Regions from separate parts of the Homo sapiens genome. Here region 1 is linked to region 2. Evidence: fine-mapped expression QTL. Tissue or cell type: whole blood. Region 2 holds a variant in brackets; the other region holds the start of a gene. All regions are shown on one strand. Distances are between the middles of the regions.

What was found. PIP is the estimated chance that this variant, and not a neighbour inherited with it, causes the effect.
Region 1: MAP1LC3A starts here. The variant in region 2 is fine-mapped to the expression of MAP1LC3A in whole blood (TOPMed, PIP above 0.99).

What each region holds. Positions count from the first base shown.
Region 1 is chr20:34,555,067-34,563,339 of GRCh38, reverse strand. It overlaps MAP1LC3A (microtubule associated protein 1 light chain 3 alpha), which reads right to left and starts at 4,622. Exons shown (of 4, transcript NM_032514.4): 1 at 4,432-4,622; 2 at 4,077-4,132; 3 at 3,887-3,993; 4 at 2,995-3,604. The coding sequence starts at 4,471. The coding sequence ends at 3,442. It overlaps PIGU (phosphatidylinositol glycan anchor biosynthesis class U), which reads left to right. Exons shown (of 12, transcript NM_080476.5): 12 at 2,361-2,798. The coding sequence ends at 2,474. RefSeq lists silencers at 2,817-2,866, 4,441-4,490, 4,831-4,920.
Region 2 is chr20:34,619,655-34,627,927 of GRCh38, reverse strand. The region is part of intron 6 of PIGU (phosphatidylinositol glycan anchor biosynthesis class U); the gene reads left to right. Among named protein-coding and RNA genes, the nearest start is that of PIGU, 53 kb to the left of the region's middle. The variant C/T (reference allele first, on the strand shown) is at 3,677.

The DNA of each region.
Region 1 (8,273 bases), 65 kb after region 2:
TGCTTCGGCCTCCCAAAGTGCTGGGATTACAGGCATGAGCCACCGCACCTCGCCGAAGTTTTATTTTTATCAATGGAATACATGTATGTAGTTTGCAAAGTTAAGGCTTATAGGGGAAAAGAATAGCTACCTAAAGTCTTACTGTTATTTCTGTTGGTACTTCTAAATAACATGCTTACTTTTCCATGTGTACGTTTTTCCGTTTTATATTAGGTTGGATCATATGAAATTGCCAGTATTCAACCATTTTTTTATCTGCAAAACTGGCAATTTCATATGGTCCAACCTAATAACCTAATCTTTTTCTTCCTGCTTCTTGTCCAGATGATTATTGTGTGACATGGAGTTGCTTCGTTTTGATTGTTGTGGATTGTGACTGCACCTGCCCCTCAGCTGACCTGGTTCAGGGATCAGCCTCTGAGCTCAGCCCCTGCTTTGGGCTCCTCCTGCCCAGATGGCATCTCGGGCCTGGGTGAGAAAGGGCTGCAGGGTATGAGGTCAGCCTTTGCTGTGATCACTGCCCCCCAGTGGGCCAGCCTGGAGCTGCCAGCTGGGCAGCTGGGGGCAGGGCCTCGGGGGCTGCCTGAGCTCTGTCTGCTTTGCTGACGCTGTGACCAATCTCGTGCTCATCAGTGATCTGGGCCCCAGGCAGACCACCTTTCTGGGTCCATGGCCATTAGTCCAGTGCTCCAGGTGTAGCCTTAGGCCAACCATTGAACCCTTTGAGTCTCAGTTTCCCCATCTGTTTAAGATGAGGATTGTTCAACCTTCCAGATGGGCTTCTGTGGTGATAGAATGGCAGGTACTTGTCCTGAGGCCATCAGAGCTGCTGGTGACAGGACACCTTCCTGAACTCCTCCAGGCGCCTCTGATCTCTCCTTAGCTGCTGTTGTGTTACCTTCAGGTCAGTGAGAAGCTGCCCAGGACAGGGTCTGGAGGTCTAGATCCCAGGCTTAGCTCAACCTGTCTTGCCCCAAGACCATAGCCAAGTGCTCTGTGCCTCAGTCTCCCCATCTGTGCCAGGTGGTTGGTGCCAATCCTCTGAGGCCTCCAGGTGCCTGAGAGCTGCGGTGTCTGTAGTGTGAGCCCCTGTCCCCTCATCCTTCTCTGAGGCTGGGCCCTGCCCAACCTGCTCCAGGGACCAGTGGTCTTGGGAAGCTTGGGCTGACTGGGATTGCAGACTCCGGGTCTGGTGTATAGGGCCCTTGGCAAATCCCTATTCCTTTCTGGGCCTCCTTGAAGAGACAGTGGGCTGAGCTTCTAGGCTCCCTTTGATTCTTCTGTGTGTGGCCCAGAATGGGACAGACAGACTGAGCTGGGCACAGAAATACCATAGTGACAGAACCATTCGAAGACCCTGCCCTGATGGAGGCCCCGGGCCAGGGGAGGAGGCACAGTCAGGCTGTCAGCTGAATGGAAAATTACACTTTCGATGAGTCTGTTATCGAGTAGAGATTAGTGGGGCCAAGAACTAATCTGGGGGGCAAGTGATCCTTCCTGAGCCCTGAAGAGTAAGCAGCTGTCAACTAGATGAACGGGGAGAGAACATTCCAGGCAGAAGAAACAGTAAAGATCCTGCCGTGGGGTGAGGTGGAGCCGGGAGAGGGCGGACAGGGACCCTAGCAAGGTCTCAGAGCACGAGGGAGTTCGAGCTTTGCCCTAAGGCTTGGGAAGCCTTTGGAGGATTTGAAGGCTGGAAGTAACACCATCAGATGTGGGTTTTGAAAAGCTCCCTCTGGCTGCCAGGGAGAATGGGGTGGGCACGGGTTTGAGAGCAGGGAGCCCAAGGACCAAGCTTTGCTGTTGTTTAGGAGATGAGATGACAGTGGCTCTGTCCAGAGTAGTGACTGTGGGGATGGATCCAAAGGGTGGATTTGAGTTTAGGGGGAATTGACAGGTCATGGTGGCTCGATGTATGAGAGAAGTGTCAGGGCAATTTTGTGGCCTGGGCACCTGGCTGGAAGATGGGGGCATGGATGCTGAGTGGGAGAAGTGTATTTGACAGAGGGAAGGTGAGGAGTTTGATGTGGACCTGGCTGGGATGGAAGTGGCTGTGGGAGGATGGGGCAGAGGCCTCTGGTTGCACAGGCACCAGGCTGGCATTCGAGGCCAGAGCCTGGGATGGAGGTGTAGACCATGGGTGGGGGCAGGGGGAGTCCAGGCAGCTTCTGAGAGGCCAGACCTTGCAGGGTCAATTATGGGCCCTGAGGTGGGGGCCCTGAGGAGGGCCTCTCCAGTGATTGTGATCCAGAGCCAGGCAGGGGCGTTCCTGTCTTCCAACAACACCTGCCAGCAGTTCAGGGATCCTGGGTTTAGGGGGAGGTACCCAGCAGCGCCTCACACCCTCTCTCTCCCCCCAGATCCTGCTCATCTCTGATTACTTCTATGCCTTCCTGCGGCGGGAGTACTACCTCACACATGGCCTCTACTTGACCGCCAAGGATGGCACAGAGGCCATGCTCGTGCTCAAGTAGGCCTGGCTGGCACAGGGCTGCATGGACCTCAGGGGGCTGTGGGGCCAGAAGCTGGGCCAAGCCCTCCAGCCAGAGTTGCCAGCAGGCGAGTGCTTGGGCAGAAGAGGTTCGAGTCCAGGGTCACAAGTCTCTGGTACCAAAAGGGACCCATGGCTGACTGACAGCAAGGCCTATGGGGAAGAACTGGGAGCTCCCCAACTTGGACCCCCACCTTGTGGCTCTGCACACCAAGGAGCCCCCTCCCAGACAGGAAGGAGAAGAGGCAGGTGAGCAGGGCTTGTTAGATTGTGGCTACTTAATAAATGTTTTTTGTTATGAAGTCTACCCTGAGACCACATCTGCATTGCACTCCTAGAGGGGGTGGCCCCTAATAATGTTCTGGAACACTACACACAGGTGTGGGTTTCCAGAGCGAGCACCGCGGCCACAGAACACAAGTCTGTGCGCCAGAGCCCGGGGATGGTGCGGGCAGCCCCACCAGCACCCTCCCCACTCCCAAGCAAGCGGCTGGAGGCACAGGGCCAGGCAGGCCTGAGCAATCTTTATTCTGCAGAGGGACAATGACCACAGATCCATACACCACGTGGAGACCGAGGGGCGGGGAGCCAGGGGCCAGTCTTTCAGGGGTGGGCAGGTCCAGGCGGTGGGCAGAGCCTCGGGTGGGTGAGGGGCAGATGGGCAGACAGGCAGGGGCCTAAAAAAAAGATGAACCACACAGCAGGGGTGCTGGGAGCTGCTCCCCACCCTCCCCCATCCCACCAGCCAGCACCCAGAGGGACAACCCTAACACGACCGGCCCAGGATCCACCCAGGGGCAGAGTAGGTGGGTTGGTGCCCTCTGACTAGGGGGGCACATGCCTGCCCAGCCCACCACGGTAGAGGCAGCTCAGTTCAGGAACCAGGAGCTCTCTGGGCAGGGCCTGACCGGGGCCGCCCGACTCCCAGGCCGAGCCCCCCTACTGCTGGCTCAGAAGCCGAAGGTTTCCTGGGAGGCGTAGACCATATAGAGGAAGCCGTCCTCGTCTTTCTCCTGCTCGTAGATGTCCGCGATGGGCGTGGACACACTCACCATGCTGTGCTGGTTCACCAGCAGGAAGAAGGCCTGCGTGGGGTTCAGCTGCAGGCGGCGCCTGCAGCCGGCGGGAGAGTATGCAGCTGTGAGGGGCTTGGCTGCGGGACGGACATAGCCCTGACCCCCAGAATGATTCCCAGCCTTTCACACCCATTCTCACCCCAGCTGTCACCTCTGACCCAACACCGACTGCAGCCCCGACCTTGACCTTTCCAGCCACCCCAGAACAGGGGCCCACCGCCCGGTCCCATCACCCCTGACCCCACTCCCACCCCTTCTCGGCGGGAACCCGGCTCCCCTCCCGACCCTAGCCACCTCCTGGCGGCGGCTGCCCACGCACCGGATGATCTTGACCAACTCGCTCATGTTGACATGGTCCGGGACCAAAAACTTGGTCTTGTCCAGGACGGGCAGCTGCTTCTCACCCTTGTAGCGCTCGATGATCACCTGGGAGCAGGGCGGGCGGGCAGGGGGTCGTGTCGGGAACGCGCGAGGCGGGGGCGGGGCAGGGCTGGGGGTGCGGGACTCACCGGGATTTTGCTGGGGTGCTGGTCGCGGATCTGCTGTACCTCCTTACAGCGGTCGGCTGCGGACAGCGGCCAGACCGTGAGGCCGGGTCGGGCCGGCCCAGGTCCGCCCCGCCTGTCCCGGAGGGGCGGCCCCCGGCCACGCCCCAGCTCCAGCCCCCACCCCCGGGGCCATCAGGCCCCACAGCCCCTGGCACCTATCGCGGTGGGGAAGCGGGCAGCCCCCGCCCAGGCCGGAGCTGGTCCCAGCCCGAGGGTCCAGCCAGAGCCTGACGTCACGGGGCTGACGTCACCTGCGGCAGTCGGGGTCGGCCGGCACCCCTGCCCCAGAGCTCGCAGCTCGCCTGCCGGGCCTCACCGAAGCTCCGCCGCTGCTTGAAAGGCCGGTCTGAGGGCATCGCGCGGGCCCGGCTGGGCGCGCAGGCCGGGGCTCTGGGGCGCGGGGATGTGTCTGCGGTTTGGGGGCTCCGGGGGCTCCGCGCCTCGCGCTCAAGGGCTCCGGGGCTCGCGCTGAGCACGGCGGCTGCGGCTGCGGGAGGTAACTCGCCCGGTGACGTCAGGTCACAACATTCCTTAAAGGGGAGGCCAGTGCGCCGCTCCCATTGGGCCGACGCACAACCCGCCCGCCCGGACCCGTGACGTCACGGCGCAGAGAGCCTGGGTCCGCGGACCGGGACGCGAGGGGCGGGGCTTCTGGGCGCGTCACAGTCCCGTGACGTCATGGGCAGCGCGGGAGCTTCTCCCGCAGCCCGAACTCAAGGTAAGGCCCGGAGGGCGGTGGGGCCGCCCTAGGCCGATGGAGCGGGCGGGCCAGGCTGCAGCCCCACGGCACCACTTCCCGCCCTCACCGAGTCTGTGTCAGGACTGACGCGGTTCTGGGCGCCGTGGGAAACAGCCGGAGCCAAAGGCCCGGCGCCTTCACGGGGCTTAGGGCGAGAGAAGGGAGAAGGTGCGGGAGGCACAGTCAGACACAGGATAGAACAGGATGCTAGAAATGAACGCCCAGGTTTGAAAAAGAATAATATAATTGAAAAGTAGAGCCATCGAAATTCAGGTCTCAGAGGATGAGGTGAGAAGGCAGAAAAGGACAACAGAAGAGAAATCGTGGACCTGGAGGCTGATCGGAAGCAGCTCACCAGAGAGACAGGTGATGGGGAATAAGGAAAAGGGCACAGATGGCAACGCCAGGAGAACTCGCGGGCCCGAGCAGAGCTCCAGAGGCGAACACTGAAAGACCTGCAGAGACAGTTCCTGAAAAAGAGCTGCCAGAAATGATGCTTAAAATCCAGAGCAGAATGCGCAGACTGAAGATCAACATTTTTTTGGGGGAGGGGGGAGGGGGACGAAGTCTCGTTCTGTCGCCAGGCTGGGGTGCAGTGGTGCGATCTCAGCTCACTGCAACCTCTGCCTCCCGGGTTCAAGCGATTCTCCTGCCTCAGTCAGCCTCCTCAGTAGCTGGGATTACAGGCGCCTGCCACCACCCCCAGCTAATTATTGTATTTTTAGTAGAGATGGAGTTTCACCATGTTGGCCAGGATGGTCTCGATCTCCTGACCTCGTGATCCACTCGCCTCGGCCTCCCAAAGTGCTGGGATTACAGGTGTGAGCCACCACGCCTGGCCGCCGAAATAATTTTTAAAGAATGTAGTTTAGTAACAAGGACATGGAACCCAAAAGGAAGAAATTAGATGGAAAAATGGTGAGCAAATTGGTAAACATGTGAATCTAAACAAGCATTTAATATGCAATATGAATAATAATGATTAATTTGTGGGCCACAGAAACAAGATGCATGAGACACAAGAACATGGAAGACTGAGAGGGCAATTTGAGAGGGGGTTAAAGAGACTGAGCATTGTCTGGCTTTGTAAAGTCAGGTGTGTATTTCAGATATTTAAGAGGATCACCAAAAGAATACAAACGGAACTATAACTGCCAATGCAGAGAAAAGGGTAGTGATGGGTATTAAAACTATAATGGAAGGCAGAAAGGGAGAAAAAGGAAGCAAAGTAAAAGGGATGGTAAATATATAGTACAAAACCAGAGGTAGAAAATGTGGTTTACATTCACCTCTTAAAACACAGATGACCAGATTGGCCAAGAAAAAATAAGATGCAGCTCTATGCTATTTACAAGAGGAAATTTAAAACCTAAGGGCACCAAAAAGTAAAACGATGGGAAAAGGTGTACTAGAGAAAAACTAACCAAAAGATGTACCTATAGAAAACTCAGACAAAATAGGCCTTCAGGCAGAAGACACTGGGGATAAGAGGATCAACATGAAATGATGCGAGGAGGAACTCTGTGAAGAGAGGAAAGTTCTGAACTTCTATGTTCCAGGGTTTTTGTTTTTAAGGCTGAAAATAGGCCAGGCGCAGTGGCTCATGCCAGTAATCCCAGCACTTTGGGAGGCCGAGGTGGGTGGATCACTAGAGGCTGGGAATTCAAGACCAGCCTGGCCAACATGGCAAAACTCTGTCTCTACTAAAAATACAAAGATTAGCTAGCTGGGCGTGGTGGTGCACGCCTGTCATCCCAACTACTCAGGTGGCTGAGGCACAAGAATTGCTTGAACCTGCTAGGCGGAGGTTGCAGTGAGCTGAGATTGCGCCACTGCCCTCCAGCCTGGGCAACAGAGTGAGACTCTGTCTCGAAAAAAAAAAAAAAGAGGCTGAAAATATATTAAGAACACAAGGAGAAATTGCCAGGTCCTCCATCATAGGGAGACATAAGACCTCTTTGAGTAACTAATAAACCAAACAACCAAAAAAAAAAGGACATAGAGGATGTTAATACAGTTACTAATCAAGATCAATGAACCCCAATAGAAAACCTGACAGTTAGTTTTTTAACTTTTAAAATTTAAATTTCAGACCTGTGTGAGACCAACACATTATTTTCAATCACACAAGGAACATTTACAAAAATGACCCAACTACTAGGGTGCACGACAAATCTCAACAGATATCAAATCAGTTTCAACCATATTCTTTGGCCACAGACAAAAGCCGCGTAAGCTCCAGCTGTGTGGAAATTTAAACCTATTCTAAATATGAAGTCATATATAAATAAAAATTATTTAGTTCAAACAAAAAATGAGGATACATATGCTAAGAAAACTTGGTGGCCGGGCGCAGTGGCTCACGCCTGTAATCCCAGCACTTTGGGAGGCCAAGGCAGGCGGATCACGAGGTCAGGAGATCGAGACCATCCTGGCTAACATGGTGAAACCCCGTCTCTACTAAAAATACAAAAAATTAGCTGGGCGTGGTGGCGGGCGCCTGTAGTTCCAGCTACTCGGGAGGCTGAGGCAGGAGAATGGCTCGAACCTGGGAGGCGGAGCTTGCAGTAAATGGAGATCGCGCCACTGCACTCCAGCCTGGGCGACAGAGCGAGACTCCATCAAAAAAAAAAAAAAAAGAAAGAAAACTTGGGAGGGGGGCCATGGCAGGCCAGGTGTGGTGGTTCATACCTGTAATCCCAGCACTTTGGGGGGCCCAGACTGGAGAATTGCTTGAGCCCAAGAGTTCAAGGCTGCAGTGAGCTGTGATTGCAGCTCTGCATTCCAGCCTCGGTGACAAAATAAGATCCATTTCTTTAAAAAAAAAAAAAATCAGATTTATAGCCTTATTACATAGATGTATTACTTAGATAATAAATACAGAAAATCCATGAGCAGAGTTTCAAAGAAATTTAAGAAGGAGTAATAGTGTAATCCTAGCACTTTGGGAGGCCCAGGTTGGAAAATCATTTGAGCCCAGAAGTTTGAGACCAGCCTGGGCCACATAGTGAGACCCCGTCTCTACAAAAATGAGAAAATTAGGCCAGGCACAGTGGCTCACGCCTGTAATCCCAACACTTTGGGAGGCTGAGGTGGGCAGATCACTTGAGGCCAGGAGTTCGAGACCAGCCTGGCCAACATGGCAAAACCCTGTCTCTACTAAAAATACAGAAGTTAGCTGGGTGTGGTGGTGCATTCTGTAATCTCAGCTACTTGGGAGGCTGAGGCACAAGAATTGCTTGAATCCGGGAGGCAGAGGTTTCAGTGAGCCAAGATCATGCCACTGCACTCCAGCCTGCGTGACAAGAGTGAGACTCTGTCTCAAAAAAAAAAAAAAATAAGAAAATTCGCTGGCTTTGGTGGCACACACCTATAGTCCCAACTACTCAGGAAGGATCGTTTGAGTGACAGAGGCCCTT
Region 2 (8,273 bases):
CTAGATATTGCATAGCCTGAATTGTCTTGTTCTGAAGATCGTGGTGGTCATTTTGTCAGAAATAACTCTTAACAGTAAATACTCTGCTGTCTGTGAACTCTCCCTGCCTTAATCCCTGTTTCCAGAGTGTCAGGTTCAGATAGGTTGTCATTTATCAAGGTGTCTGGTGTCCATTAAAATAAACAATATACGCAGCAGCCTGGCAGAAGGGACCAAGTACTGGCCTTTGGAAATGTCATCTTTAAAATAGCCGAGTGCAAAGATAGAGAAACTGAAGACATGCCCTCAGAAGGTGCATGTTTATTTGTTTTCCTAGGAGTCGCTCGTAAAAATGTAAAAGTATGCCATTAAAAAAAAATATTTTATGACCTGTAAGTCAACGAAAAGGTTTTTGTTTGGGGAAGAAAAACATGTAAGTAAGTTATATGTATCTCTTTCACAGCCATGGTTTTTTTTTTGTTCCACAGAGCAAAAAAAATTTTATATCACTCCAGACTTTTGTTTAATGAATTCATAGACATTTTCGTAATGTTATATACATAATTTTGTTTTACTTTTATCACTTATTTCATATGAATCATGTCTGACATTGGTCACATATTTGTCATTTCCTTTAAATTTAAATTTAATTTTGCAAGTAGTTTAAGCATTTGGTAAGAATAAAAGAAATTCAAACCTATAAATTGGAAAGGAAGTCTTTCATCACTCTGCTGCATGTCCACTTCAGTTCCTCTTGCGTATTTGTTATGAGATCCCAGCGCTTCTCTTTTGTTGGACATTTGTTTTCCATTATTTGCTACTATAAATAGAGACCCTCACAAACAACATTTCTAATCTGTTAAAATATTTGAAGAGTTCTATTTTAGCTAGGTCTCTGAACCACTCCAGCTCTTTGAGTATTTTAGTAATCTCTGCTAACAGTATATATAATATAGTTAGTTCAGTTATAACTTCTGCAAGTTATATTTCTACAGTTCACATTTTACCACATAATATTAATAAAATTATTTAATAAAATTAAGGAATAATTTACTTTTTATCCTAAAAAAGAAAATATTTGAGAAAATTCACAAGAAAAGGAATATAAATCACTGAAAATTATGGAAAAATATTCAACTCATGGATAATTAATAAAGAAAAGGCAAATTGAAATTTAAAAACTTTTGAAAGCTTTTTTTGTTTTTTGCCTCTGAAATTGGTAAAGATTTTAGAAGCTAATTCTCAGTTCTGGCAAATGTTCTATCAAATAGATATTCTCCCACATGGAAGTTGGCTGATAAATTTGTACAACCATGGGCAGTCTTAAAATGTTTGGAGTTTTTTTGGCCAGGCGCGGTGGCTCACGCCTGTAATTCCCAGCACTTTGGGATGCCGAGGCAGGTGGATCACCCGAGGTCAGGAGTTCATGACTAGCCTGGCCAACATGGTGAGACCCTGTCTCTACTAAAAATACAAAAATTAGCAGGGCGTGGTGGTGGGCACCTGTAATCCCAACTACTCGGGAGGCTGAGGCAGGAGAATCGCTTGAACCCGGGAGGTGGAGGTTGCAGTGAGCCGAGATCACGCCATTGCACTCCAGCCTGGGCAACAAAAGCGGAGCTCCGTCTCAAAAAAAAAAAAAAAAGTTTGGAGTTTTAAAAAATTTTATTCATTTATTTTTCTAACACTATCCACCTGGGGATAAAATGTTTGTAGTTTTGATTTTTATTCTACTTTTGAGAACCTATCCTAAAGTAATGCAGAAATAAAGACAGAAAGCTTTATGGTACAAAGTTATTAATCGCAGAATTATTTATAATCACTGGAAAAATTAGAAAATACTTTAGAGAGGAGTGGTTAAGTAAAATATGGTTTACCCATGTAGTAGAATATTATGCACATGATATTTAAATATAATTTTAAACTACATGAAAATAAATGTTTTTTTAAACAATGTAAAATTGTGTATGTGTGTATATATATATATATATTATATATATGTATTTTTTTTAATCTAATTTTGTTTTTTGGAGACAGGGTCTTACTCTGTCACCCAGGCCACTCAGGCTGAAGTGCAGTGGCACAGTCATAGCTCACTGTAACTTCACACTCCTAGGCTCAAGTGATCCTCCCACCCCATCCTCCCATGTAGCTGAGACGACAGGCATGCACCACCATGCCTAGTTGGGTTTTTTTCTTTCTTTTTTTCCTTCTTTCTTTCTTTTTTTTTTTTTTTGAGACAGAGTCTTGTTCTGTTGTCCAGGCTGGAGTGCAGTGGTGCAATCTCGGAATTTTAAAGGTTTTTTGTAAAGACCATATCTTGCTCTGTTGTCCAGGCTAGTCTTGAACTCTAAGCCTCAAGCAATCCACCTGCCTCAGCCTTCCAAAGTGCTGGGCTTACAGGTGTGAGCCACTGTGCCCAGCATTTTAATGAATCTCAACTATGTTAAAGCAACAAAAATAGTTAGAAAATAGATCCCAAAAGGATAATACTTGTTCCTGTAGATTAAGTTCATGGGTGAGTTTTATTTCCTTTTCGTATAGATATGTAGTTTTTTTTTTTTTGTTTTTTTTTTTTTTGAGATGGAGTTTTGCTCTTGTTCCCCAGGCTGGAGTGCAATGGCACAATCTCGGCTCACCACAACCTCTGCCTCCCGGGTTCAGGTGATTCTCCTGCCTCAGTTTCCCGAATAGCTGGGATTACAGGCATGCGCCACCACATCCGAATTTTGCATTTTTAGTAGAGACGGGGTTTCTCCATGTTGGTCAGGCTGGTCTTGTACTCCTGACCTCAGGTGATCCACCCGCCTTGGCCTCCCAAAGTGCTGGGATTACATGCGTGAGCCACCACGCCCGGCCTCATATGTTTTTTTTCCAAAGTTTCTTCAGTGAGTACATAATTAAAAACGAAATTAAATTAACTTGATTGATAAGACGATAGGGGCAGTGGAAGTAAACTTAGCAATGCTCCCCAGACTTCCATGGAGCAGATACACCACAGAAGGGAGTGACCTTGTTTGCTTTGTCCCCTTGACTCTTGCTGCTTGCTTTCCCCTGGCTTCCTTTGTGGCAGCCCAGGGTTGCCTGGGACACTCTGAGAGATGCAGGCCAGGACAAGCCTCGGGCCATTGTATTGTGATGTCCTTATTGTAGTGTTGGCTGGGGAACACAGGTCTTTGGGCAGGTTGATATTAGTTTAGTGGAGCAGCTTAAGTTTCGCTTTGAAGGCTGTTGCTTGGGCAAAGTGTACTCTGCCTTTCAGTGAGCTAATTAAAAACTCCTTCCTTGGGAAGTAGTCTTCATTAGGCTTTAAAAAGGAAAACAGACAAACAGATGCTAATAGATGGTCCTGCTTTTTCACCATTGGTGTTTGTCAACAGCGAGATATTCTTGAAGTTTGCCACCTAAGGGTTCTTCCAGCTTTCCTTATGCCACCAAAAAAGGCCATGTGACAGGACTTGCTTGCCAAGGAGAAAGAAGGATCAGTGCTATCAGAAGGTATTCAAGCATGATTAAGAGCCCAGGCTGCTCTCATGTTAGACAGATCTGGTGGCTAATCCCAGCTCCACTGTCTCCTGGCTCTATCACCTTGGGCAAGTCACTTAACAATTCTAAGCCTCAGTTTCCTTATCTGCAGCATGGGGATGAAAGAGTGTCTGCCTTATAGAGTGAATATAAAGAATGAATGGTATGGAGG[C/T]GTGTAATAACTGCTCAGATGGTATTGGTTGCTATTTTTAATAGTATCCTCCCTTTTAAAAGATCCCTCAGATCACTCGAGCCCAGGAGTTTGAGTGTAGTGAACTATGACCGCGTCACTGAGCTCCAATCTAGGCAACAGAGTGAGACCATGTAAAAAAAATTAAAAAATAAAAGAGACCTCATGATTGTTAGCATCCTTATAGGCCTTATAGGGAGACCTGGGAGGTTTCAATGAGGTTCTCTTCCTGGAGCCTAGCCTTAGAGGAACAATGGAAGAGTGATGATCCTGAGGCCTGGTGATCCCATCACTTCGAGTTGAGGTTCCTGTAGGCCAAAGCCCTGCCAATGGAAGGAGTCATAGAGGACTCAAGGACTCAGTTTTTGTCAGGTCAACCCAACTTCAAAGCCTGCTTATTCTAATTACCAGCTCTGTAGCCTTGAGCAAATCATGCAGCCTCAAGAGCCTCAGTTTGATCCCAGAATATCTACCTCCTAGAGATAGTGGAGGAATAAATAAGAAATATAAAATGCTTAGCGTGCTTCCTTAGCAGAATCCACTCAATAACTAGTTGCTCTGCCTATTGTTATTTTTATGGTGCTTGATTGAGATCAAGAGGGTGGCCCAGTGATGCAGTCAGAACATGGGGTCTGAAGTAAAACCATTTGGTTTAAATCCTATTGCTCTCATTCACTAGTTTCGTGACCCCAGACAAATAACTTCTCTGTCTTTCAGTTTCATTATCTGTAAAATGGGGACAGTAATTGTACCCACTTCATGGAATTATTGAGAAGACTAAATGGCTTAAGGCAAGTAAAGTGCTTACAGTCATGGCTGGAACAGAGTAAGTGCTCAATAAATTATCATCGTTATCACTGATATGTACGGATTGCTCTGAGAGAGGCTGCCCCGTTAAAAGAACACACTTGGCAAGGAATGTAATACATTGGCCCTGCCCCCAGGATCTCCTCCTCCTCCTGGGCAGTCTCACTTGTTGCCCCACACCCTGGTGCAACTTCCTTTTCTGATAGTCCTGTGGGACCTGAGCCCTTTTGACTACATTCCAGTGCGTTTCTGCCTGTCTTGGTATAGATCATCACCTGTGACCCAATCTCTTTATTCTCTGATTACTCCACTTGAAGTCCCTGTCCTGAACCAGTCCCCATGGCCCCACCTCATTACATTCCTGCTCACTCCTGTAGCTGTGCCACCCACCCAGGCCCAGATCGCTGTGAGGTGCAGTCCCTGGAGGCAAAGTATTACCCCCGGTCTTGCTGAGGCTTTTGGCCCCCACCCTGACACAAATAGAGAGTTAGAAAACATAACATATTCAAAGCTAGATTGAGTAGATAATGAAATTTCCTGATACTACAGCCAATGTACATACACATTTGACTGATTTACTCTAATATCCCTAGGATAAGGCTAAATATCAAGGCTTATATAGAAAGCCTAGTGCCTGTGCATCTGGGCTGCCCTAGCAAATGGTAGGTTATATCATTTTGGGGTAAAACTCTTAGTCCTCTTGGCACAGTTCCTTCTGGTTAGGCCAGCGTGATGCCCTAGCTCTTGCCCACATGAGGCTGCCATTTCAGACATGATTTCAGGTATCCTGTCTGGGCCTGTAGGTAGATGTTTTTGGATGACTGTGCAAGCTTAGCCCTCCGTGATCTGACTCCTACCTGCTTGCTGAGACTTTTTGGATTGTAACTTTTTTTTTGTTTTTGTTTTTTTTGAGACGGACTCTTGCTGTGTCTCCCAGGCTGGAGTGCAGTGGCGTGATCTCGGCTCACTGCAACCTCCACCTCTCAGGTTCAAGAGATTCTCCTGCCTCAGCCTCCCGAATAGCTGGGACTACATGCGCCCGCCACCACATCCGGCTAATTTTTGTATTTTTAGTAGAGATGGGGCTTCACCATATTGGCCAGGCTGGTCTCGAACTCCTGACCTTGTGATCCACCCTCCTCGGCCTCCCAAAGTGCTGAGATTACAGGGGTGAGCCACCACGCCCAGCCGGATTGTAACTTTTTATTGAAGTATGACATATATACGGAAAAATGTATAACTCATTAGTGTACAGATACGTGAATTTTCACGAAACGTTGAGTAACCAGCACCCAGATTAAGGAAGAGTGGTACCAGCATCCACGGGAGCCCCTTTTGTGTTCTCTTTCCTGTCACTCCTCCCAGCTCTTGCCCTGTTTTGGCTATATTGAGCTAATTACAGTACACACAGCCCCACCCCAGCACACCATTCTCTCTTGCCCTCCAACCTGTGCACAGCCTTGGACTGCCCAGCCTCACCTACTCATTGTTCAAAACTCAGGTGTCAGCTTCCCCTGATGGGCTAGGTCTGCTTCCTTTGTACTTTCCTCCTGTATTTTGTAATTGTTTACTGGGAGCTCCCTGAGGACAGAGACTATCTGAGTCACCAGGTTTCCTGGCACCCATCACACTCTTCGTATAGAGCAAACTCCAGAAATGTTTGCTTATTGCACAGTTTGTTTAAAATATTTGAAGTCACTTCTCACTTTCCTTGATCTTCTCTGACTCTGCCCCAAGCACATATCATTCCTCCTCTGCCTTCCTAACTCCTTTTTACCCCTTCAAGCTTTTTTCAAAACACATAGCCCTTTCTGAGTCTCCTGCCTGCCTCCATACTCACCCTCACTTTTGCTCCGGCTGTGCGTCCGCCCTGTCCACACCTGTCCCAGCATCCCACACTCAGACTTCCCACACACCAACCTACTGACTGTTGCAGCACTGTGTTTCTGCCCCCAGACTGCAGGCCTCAGCCATGCAATAGTTTACTCCACAGAGAGCATTCTCTGTGCCAGCCCTCTGCCACAACAAACCCTCAACCACTATTCTTCAGGCTCTGCTTTATTTGAGTTAGATTTATTTTGTGCTTTGCCTGTGTTCATGACTCTGTGTATTACACTTCATAAGTTTTTCTTCCTCAAGAACATTGGTTTCCTTTAATATTCTCATATTTTTAAAAAGGATTTCATATGTATTGCTGAATGATATTCATTCATTCATTTCTTCATTTGTTCATTTATCACATGTGCCAGGAACTGTACTAGGTGCTGGAGAGCCAAAGTTAAGATAAATGTGTTGCCCTTGAGAAACTCACAGAGAAATGGGGAGAGAGAGAAACATATGCAGATTATTATAAGATAGCATCAGTATTAGGCTTATTAACACAGGGATTAAGAGTGGGTACCGGAGTCAGCTATGTGGTTTTGGTCACATTACTGAAGCTTTCTGTTTCTGTCTTGATTTCTTGACCTGTAAAATGGGTAGAATGTGTGGTTTTTATCTCAGTAAAGCTGTTCTAAGAAGCAGAAATAGAGCTTTCACAGGGCTGTTGTGATGTTTCCTGAGGACCTTTTTGAGTCAGGAACTGTTTTTTTTGTTTTTTTTTTTTTGTTTTTTTTTTGTTTTTTTTTAGGTGGAGTCTTGCTGTGTCGCGTGCAGTGGCGCGATCTCGGCTCACTGCAAGCTCTGCCTCCCGGGTTCACGCCATTCTCCTGCCTCAGCCTCCCGAGTAGCTGGGACTATAGGCTCCCACCACCATGCCCGGCTAATTTTTTGTATTTTTAGTAGAAACAGGGTTTCACCGTGTTAGTCAGGATGGTCTCGATCTCCCGACCTCGTGATCCGCCCGCCTCAGCCTCCCAAAGTGCTGGGATTACAGGCATGAGCCACCGCGCCTGTCCAAGTCAGGAACTGTTCTTGATGCAGAGGATACAGTACAGTGCCTGGCACCTAGCAAGTGATCCATAAATGTCAACTATAATCAACGGTTGTTACCACCTTTGCTTGGGCTCATAGACAAAGTGACCTTTCACCTGGCTATCAAACGAATGCTTTCTACTAGAAAGCGGGCAGAGAAGGATGGCTTGGGCAGAAGGAATAGCCTAAGAACAGACACAGAAGAATGAAACAGCATGATGTTTTCAGAAATTGGGAATAGTCCAGTGTAGCTGGAGGACAGGGCGTGTGTGGAAGAGTGGTGAGAGGTGAAACTGGAGAAATGAGACCCAGTGGTGAAGGGTCTTGTTTGCTGTTGGAGTTTAGACTTAACCTGATAGATGAAATGGAACCATCAGAAGTCTTTAAAGACTGGCTAGCCACAATCTAAACTGTTTTAGAAGGTTCCTTTGGTGCTTCTGTAGATGGACTTGGATGGGAGGTGGTTGGGAGACCGCTAAGGAGGAGGGGGAAAAGCTGCTGGAGAGAGATGACAAGAGCAAGAACTGAAAGGATAAATGCTCCAGGGGTGGATCCACAGGGCTTGGTGACTGGTGGAAGGAAGAACATGGGAGCTGAAGGGTGAAGGGTTGCCAGGGTATCTGGCTAGATGTTGATGCCAGTTACTGACAAAGAATAGCAGGAGGAACAGATTTTTCCTTCCCAAAGACTACTTCAGTCTATGGAAGGAAGACTGCTTCTTCCTGATCCTAGGAGCAAGTATTCTAAAACTCACAAGTCCATTTGGCTAGGCTGTGAGCCTCTTTTTCTCTCTTGGGCCTCATAAACAGTCAGTTTCAGACAAGCAATTATTAACCTCAGGCAATTAGGGCAAGAGATG